Linked DNA regions of Homo sapiens. The protein of the gene in region 1 interacts with the protein of each later gene in a pairwise test. Each region holds a gene or a part of one and is shown on either strand. Other genes may lie near its edges. The genes, in order: MAN1C1 and SMAD9.

Region 1 (4,472 bases):
GCAGCCTTACACAGCAGTCCAGGCAGGGGCACCCCACACCCACACACACCTGACATCACCCTGGCCGCGGGTTCAAGGCAACTGACATCTCTCCTGGATCCCGAAAAGCAGGAGGTGGGAGGTCTGACCTGGGCCCTCTGCTTGGCTGTTTCCCCAGACACCAAACTTGGGCCTGAGGCCTTCTGGTTTAACTCCGGCAGAGAGGCCGTGGCCACCCAGCTGAGCGAGAGCTACTACATCCTCCGGCCAGAGGTGGTGGAGAGCTACATGTACCTGTGGCGACAGACCCACAACCCCATCTACAGGGAGTGGGGCTGGGAGGTGGTGCTGGTGAGTGGGCCCCAGGGATGGGCAGCAAGGTGCTAGATGCCCCTGAGAATTTACAGGCTGGGTGCTAGGTGCCCTGGCTTGGGCCTGGAGTGGAAGGCCAAGCCACGTTGACCTCTGACCACAGTTCAGAGTGCAAAGGGTCAAGGTGGTGGTTACAGAGCCAAGAGTCCCCAGCTGGGCAAAGTTGTCCTGAGACAGGACAGGCCAGACTTGTGAAGAGGGTTCTGAGTGCCCATATCCTTGGGGCCTGGGACCAGGCCTCAGCAAACTTAGAGGGTCAGAGGCTAGGCAGCTGCCTAGAGCACCACGCAGGCACCACGCGGCCACCGCTGTCCCAACAGACGCTTTCCTGATCTCGAAGCTGGGCAGCTCACCTCCACCTCCCTCCTCTTCCCACAGGCAGCCCAGCCTGAGGGACCCCCCCACCCTAGTCTCTACTGGCCCTTGAGGCCTACCCTGCCCTCAGCCTCCGGCCCCACACCTAGGTGGAAATTTAATGGCTGTCTTGGGGGAGGTGTCAAAGGCAGGTGTGGGGATTCCAGCAGGTTCCCTGGTGGATGCTGAGCCTTCTCTGCCCCTATCTCCCCCACCACCCCCGTGCCCATTCCGAGCATTGCACTCAGACGGGGTCCAGGGCATGCTCAGGTTTACTGGCCCTGTTAAGTCCACCTGCTTCCCCAGGACCATTGTTCTTGGCCTTCAAAGGCCAAGCGTCTTGTGCTCCTATGCCCAGTCCATAGACCCCCTCCGTGGGTAGAAATTGTATTTATCAGCCTATAGGCAACACGGCAAAACCCCATCTATACAGAAAAATACAAAAATTATCCAGGCATGGTGACGCACGCCTATAGTCCCAGCTGCTTGAGGGGCTGAGGCAAGAGGATTGCTCGAACTGCAGAGGTTGAAGCTGCAGAGTGAGCTCTGATCGCCCCACTGCCCTCCAGCCTGGGCGACAAAATGAGACCTTGTCTCAAGAAAAAAAAATGCATTTATATAGAAAGATGAATGGCTTGGCTCACTTGCCTCCAGCCCAGGGGCCATCTCTCCTGAGAATCCCTGGAGTACCAAGTCCGTCCCCAAATCCCAGCCCATGGCCATCACCCGTGGCTTCTCTTCACCTCTGCCTACCACTGTGGGTGAATCTGTAAGACCAGCCTAGTCCCCTGAAACACAAAGAGAAGCTTCCTCTAAGTTCAAACCAGGTGAAGAGCTCAGGACAGGCAGCCCATCGGGCCAGAGCTCTCAGAGGTGTGGGTGGAAGGAGTGTGGCCCCTCCAGCCTGGGGACAGGTGGCTAAACCCCGAAAGAATAATTTGACCTTCTGTTCCCACAAATGCCAGGAGTCCCCAGCCAAGGGGTGGGGGTGCTGTCTGCTTTCTTCTAGCTCCAGCCTGCCAGGCATGCACAAGTCTTGAGGGGCCTTTCCTGTCCCGTGTTAAGGCTGTTTTCCTCCTCCTCTTCCCCTTCCTCAGGCCTTGGAGAAATACTGTCGGACAGAAGCCGGTTTCTCTGGGATCCAAGACGTGTACAGTAGCACCCCCAACCACGACAACAAGCAGCAGAGCTTCTTTCTAGCGGAGACACTAAAGTGAGCAGTGTGGGCTCTTCCTAGGGATGGACAGGTGGGAGGTTGAGGGTAGGGGTCCGCAGTCCCTCCCCTCCACAGTCAGGTTCTGTGGTCACAGGACGGGAGCCCAAAAGGGGTGAAGGGCTTGGGATCCAGAGGGCTGCACCCCAGGTGTGAGCCTTGGGCCAGGCCGCTTTCTCGGAGAGTGAGACTGGGCTAGAATCCAAGTTCCCTAGGGACGCACCGTGTGATACCGCAGGTTCCTTCAGTTTCTCGCTTATCTCCCCAGGTTGCTTCCGTTCTGGGAACCGCGTCCTCGTGTGTAAAATGGGATAGGGTTAACGATGATGATGTCAGTGCTGGTTGCTGGCATTGACTTTCCCTCCTGTGGCCTCTGCAGTGTGGCTGCTGTGCCCTCCTCGATTTCATGCCATGGAAGTTGGCCATCCCACTTCCTCACTGTTCCCCAAAGCAAGCCCCTTGTGCTTTAACCCTTTAGGGTGGGTCAGAATGATCAGTTCCTTCCAGTGAGGAAAAAACCCACAACCTGGAAGCTGGAGTTCTAGAGTCACAACCCCATGTTCTTCTCAGTGCCCCAATGTGTACTCTGAATATAGAGTCTTAGTGGGCAGCAGCGGGGCACGTGAGAGTCAACTGGACTGCAGCAGCCCTCAGGCACCCCTGCAGAGAATCTGGACCATAAGGGCTCACATACAGGGCCGGGCAGGTGAAGCTGGCTGATGGCAGAGCCAGGGTAAACTAAGTCCTTCTGACCCCAAAGCTCAAGGCTTTTCTCTGCAGCCACAGCCTCCTTCCCCAGGACTAGCACCCCCACCCTGCTGCCCACAGTTTTGGGGTTGCAAGGCTCCAGACCTTGACCATAGGCCTATCACAAAGGCCCTGAGACTTGTTCCCAGGCCCACCCTTCTTCCCCAGGCCACTGACAGACTGTGTCTTGCTTCCCTGCCCTGCGTGGGGCACAGGTATCTCTATCTTCTGTTCTCTGAAGATGACTTGCTCTCCCTGGAAGACTGGGTGTTCAACACCGAGGCCCACCCACTCCCGGTGAACCACTCAGACAGCTCCGGCAGAGCCTGGGGCAGACACTGACCCCATCTCCTGCCGCCGCCCTGGGGCCGCCGCAGGGATGCCTTGCCTTTTCAGGATTTGAGACTGTTCTCAAAGGGATTGGGAACGAAGGCCCCATCTCGGGCAGACCCCCAGCAGATGTGTCGGACAAGCAACTTCTTTTCCTCTGTGAGGAGACAAGACTTGGAGACTCAGCGATGTCAGGCCAGGGCCATGGCCACACTGGCCCACACATTCCTTTCTACAGAGAATTTCTATGAAGCCCACTCACTTGCCATTCCAGGGCCAAAGGACCGGAGGTTTGCATATCCGCCCCTTGTATTTGATTTGCTTCCTTTTGGTTTCTTGGTTTTTGTTTTTGCTTGATTTTGTCTTTTCTCTACAGTTTAGTTTTGTCACAATTACACATATAGTTTTCAAAATCATGCACTTTCTAAAATGGTGTCATCCTGAAAAACAAAACCCAGTGTTTGCACACACACAAAATCTTGACCCCGTTATCTATATTTTAAATGCTTTTTGCCCAACACTGACCCTATGTTCAACTTTGTGTCATTTACCTTATAATTTGAGGAGGGGTTTCCCTTTGGGCCTCAGTGTTACAAATTACTAGTGCTATTTTCATTATTATTGTAATGGAAAAATCTGTGGACTAGAATAAAAGAGTTTATTGAATAAGAAATATGATTGGGCTCATTGCACATCAGTGACTCCTAGAAAAACCATTGCAATGTTACCATCAGAAATAATAATCAGCCAGCAGTTGATTTAAGGTATAATTTAGTAAACGATTCCAACTTCTATTACCTCCCCTGAAATCGGTCCTGATATATTCGAGAAGCATGAGGCCAGCCCTTCAGATGCAGTTGTTTATTTATACTCAGGTTTAGATTGGGAAGAGGCCCAGGGAGGAGCAGCAACTTGCCTGAGGTCACACAGCCCAAAAAAGGCAAAGGAGAGTCTCGCCCCTGCCGTCTCCTGGCCACCCCAGTTGAGTGTCCGTCTGTTCCATCATTCAGCAGATGCTTGGTGAGTGCCTGCAACGGACCAGACACTGGGCTAGAGGCCAGGGACACCGCTGAGAGTGAGACAGTCATAAGCCCTGCAGTCAAGGGGTCAAGAGGGGAGAAAGCGATGGTAAGGGAAACTGACAAGTAAGTGAAGTGACTGCAGGTCATAGGAAATGCTACAAAGGAGATAGATAGACAGCTGAGGACCTACCCTACGGGGTCAGGGAGGGCCTCTCTGGGCAGGTGACCTTCAAGCCAAGACCCAGAAGATAAAAAGGAGCAGCCGAAAGACTATCTGGCAGAAGAATGAACTTCCCATAACCCAGCCCCCTTTCCCACCCTCCCTGATGCCCTCCCTGGGAGGGGGCCTGAAACACTGGGGCTGTTGTGCAGAGCAAGGAGCTCAGGTCCTAACACTGAAGTGACAGCTCTTCCTCCCCTGACCCTTTTTTTTTTTTGAGACCCAGAGTCTCGTT
Region 2 (3,812 bases), on another chromosome or scaffold:
CCGTCTCAAAAAAAAAAAAAAATTAAAAACAAGCTCTTTAAACTAAAATTTAACCACCATTGACTCCAGGATCCTCAAATACACTATGTTCAAATGTAGAGATGGAACCATAGTGAATATGAGAAGAGGGAGGGATGAAAACACAGACCACAGAGAATTTGCAGGGCAATGAGACGACTCTGCCTGATACTACCATGGTGGATACACGTCATGATACACTTGTCCAAACCCACAGAATGTACACCACCAAGAGTGAATCTCCCAAATTTCTACTCTGAGTCTGTATCCATACATTTTACACTTAAAAGCCCACTAAATATCATGAGGTGGGGGTTGTGAGTTGACGCCTGTAACATCAATTTCAAATAAGGCTGTTCGCAATCTGGCCTCCCCAGACTACATTCCCAGCCTCATCTCTTTTCACTCCCTTTGCCCATCACTCCTTCCCTCCCTGCCCAGAAGGCCCCTGTGCAGCTCTATCTTTCCTGCTCCTTCTTCAAAACAGAGCTGGAAGCCAACTTCCTGGAAACCTTCCCTGGAGGCCCCCAGGCAACAGCACTGATCAGCTCTCTGCTGCTCCTCTGGGCTTCCACAGCACCTAACATGTGCTAGTCACTCACAACAGCACTTACCACACTTGAATCCCCAGATTTGGTAAGTGTTTTCTCCAGAGATGCCTAGCCTTCTATCAGGCCACAAGCCAAGCCACATTGTGGTCTGTACTACCTACCTAGCATGCAGGAGGCCATCAATAAATGTTGAATGAATGAAAGTAAAATCCAGTTTTATCAATACCATTAACTATTGTATTATTAATATTATTATTACTATTTTGAAAAAGGGTCTTGCTCTGTCACCCAGGATGGAGTGCAGTGGCGTGATCATGGCTCACCGCAGCCTCAACCTGCCAGGCTCAATAGATCCTCCCCCTGCAGCCTCCTGAGTATCTGGGGCTACAGGCACGCCCCACCAAGACCAGCTAAATTTTTAAAATATTTTTCTCATAGAAGGGTTTTCACCATGTTGTCCAGGCTGGTCTCAAACTCCTGGGCTCAAGCAATCTGCCCCCCTTGGTCTCCCAAAGTGCTGGGATTACAGGCATGAACCATTGCACCTGGCCAACTATTGTATCATTAAGCCCCATGTAATTAATTGAAGTTCTAACCTAAAGCCCATTGCTTTACTAACGCAATACAATAAATTTCTTTGAAAGACAGAATTATATAATGCATTCCCTACTTCCTATGCATAGTCTATCTACTTAAGGTAATATTATATAGAGCATAATCTGTCTGAATACTTGTAAAGTATTAAATGACTATAAATCATCTGTTTAATATATATATTTTTAATGATGTGTGGGCAATTTTTAAAATTTTATAGATGTGTGTCTCGAGGAAGGCTGTTTCCCGGCCAAAGGCTGCCTGGGGGGGGGGGGGGCGGGTGGAGTTCATAAACTGATAAAGAATCACAAATAAGCCGTGTTATGAACTGCTGTTCGGGGAAGCTCAATTTATTTTTTATTTTTTATTTTTTGAGACAGAGTTTTGCTCTTGTTTCCCAGGACGGAGTACAATGGCACAATCTCAGCTCACTGCAACCTCTGCCTCCTGGGTTCAAGCGATTCTCCTGCCTCAGCCTCCCCAGTAGCTGGGATTACAGGCATGTGCCACCACACCCAGCTAATTTTGTATTTTTAGTAGAGATGGGGTTTCTCCATGTTGGTCAGGCTGGTCTTGAACTCCCAACCTCAGGTTATCCGCCCACCTCAGCCTCCCGAAGTGCTGGGATTGCAGGTGTGAGCCACCGCACCCAGTCGGGGAAGCTCAGATTTTTATTTGCTAAAGAGAAGCATGAAGCAGTGGAGATGGTGTGTCAACTGCTTAGCTAGGAGTTGTGGCCATTTAAAAGCATGCAAACCACTTGAATTTGTCTTCACTCTTCCAAATACCCCTTTGATTATGTGATTCTTCTGTTCAAACCATTTAATAGTTATCATGACTACGGGTTAAAATTGAATAGTTCTCCTTTGCCTACAGATTAAATCCAAATTCCTTGCCCTTCCTTCCACCTTACCCTACAAAAACCAACCTATTTAGGGAAGAGAAAGGTGGGATCGTTGAAAACCCAACATATTTAGGGAAGTGAAAGGTGGAGTGGTTCAAGTATCAACAATGAAGTGGACACTACCCTAGCAGCTGAATATTTCAAGATAAGACATGGTCCCTTTCCTCTATACTACTATTGAGACAGCAATCTAAACATATTATTATCAGGCAAGTAATAGGTGCACTATTACAACAGTTACTAGAAGAGTGTATTCAAAGTGGTCTGGAGGCCCCTGGCTGGCTAAAAGGGTTGGGTGGGGTTTCCTATAGGACCAGCCATGCAAACTCACTCACCCTTGAACCAGTAAAGGGTAGCAGGGAAAAACAGGAGGAAACTGTACAAAGGCTGGATCCTCCTCCTGACAGACTCAGGAAGTAGTGAAATTCCATGGCCTAGGGATGTTCTCAGCATCTCTAAGTTCTCATAAGGACTTACTGAAAGAATCTCTTCCTGTTTATGTCTTCTATTTTACCTCTACCTTCTAGTTTACCTCCCAAATCCCAAATGAGATCATTCTCATTATCCTTGACAAGACTAACTAAAAATTCACACACAGAAAATACGGAAGTCTAATCAGGAAAAATACAGTCATCCCCAGGTATCTATGGGGGATTCAGTCCAGAATCCCCACAGACACCAAAATCCAAGGATGCTCAAGTCCCTCGTATAAAATGGTATATTTGCATATAACCTACCACATCCTCCCTTATACTTTAAATCATCTTAGCTTACTTATAATACCTACTATACTGTAAATGCTATGTAAATGGTTTTTATATCTTATTTTTTATTTGTGTTATTTTTAATTTTTTCTCCAATATTTTTCATTTGTGGTTGGTTGAATCTGTTGATGCAGAAACTGCTGACTCACAGGGCCAGCTGAATAGAGAAATAAACCCAAATAGATTACAGTTTGGGGAAGTAAGACATCTTACTATTGGAGAAATATTTTAATATTTGCTTTCTTGATCTCTTTCACGCTAACTACACTATGAAATCCTGGAGACTAGGATTTTATTTTTGTCACTTCATTTCGTTGTGTAGTCCCCAGGGCCTGTTCTGGGGCCTCATAGGCAGGGTAGACACAATAGACACAGAGTAAATAATGGTTGAATGAATATCCTATACAAGCCCCATAAATTTACAAGTTCCACCTTCTAAAGTGATTGCTACACCCACAAAATTGCAACACTTTAAAACCCCAAGATATAATCAATACAACTTTAAAAAAATAAAGTGTATTTAGAATATCTTGTAATAAAATTAGATGCAATGACAACAGAAAGCAAGTAAAACTGCCACTCCTTTGAAATAATACCAACTTGTCATTATTTGCAAACACAGCCAACACCTAATGACTGCTTTGTGTAAACATATAGTCAATAAGCTGAAAGGGAAGCATTCATGTCCATAAATGTTTGTCTTTGACAAATATTTTATTCAACTCCTATTCCTAAAAATAAAATTCTACTTCCACTAGAAAACAAAGAATGACTAAATGCATAAACAAGACAAAGAAAACCACATGAGACCTAAAATCTTTTTAGCTTAACACATTTTTCATCTTCCACATTCATTACCACCATTCTTGGCTTCTAATAATCACTTATGTCATTAATAATAATCACCCATATCATCAATCACTGGTGGTCTTGCTTTATGAACAAATGGTGTTCAATCCTGCATAGTTATTTGGAAACTGG

What was found.
Region 2: the proteins of MAN1C1 (region 1) and SMAD9 interact in a two-hybrid assay, tested with the Homo sapiens proteins (one large-scale study listed by BioGRID and IntAct).

Annotation. Positions count from the first base shown.
Region 1 is NC_000001.11:25,780,783-25,785,254, forward strand, and holds the end of MAN1C1 (mannosyl-oligosaccharide 1,2-alpha-mannosidase IC), read left to right. Parts: intron 1-157; coding exon 158-330; intron 331-1,802; coding exon 1,803-1,918; intron 1,919-2,880; coding exon 2,881-3,007; 3' UTR 3,008-3,061; coding exon of another isoform or gene 3,062-3,068; 3' UTR 3,069-3,668; downstream 3,669-4,472. UniProt on the Homo sapiens protein: Involved in the maturation of Asn-linked oligosaccharides. Trim alpha-1,2-linked mannose residues from Man(9)GlcNAc(2) to produce first Man(8)GlcNAc(2) then Man(6)GlcNAc and a small amount of Man(5)GlcNAc.
Region 2 is NC_000013.11:36,910,190-36,914,001, forward strand, and holds part of SMAD9 (mothers against decapentaplegic homolog 9), read right to left. Parts: intron 1-3,812. UniProt on the Homo sapiens protein: Transcriptional modulator activated by BMP (bone morphogenetic proteins) type 1 receptor kinase. SMAD9 is a receptor-regulated SMAD (R-SMAD).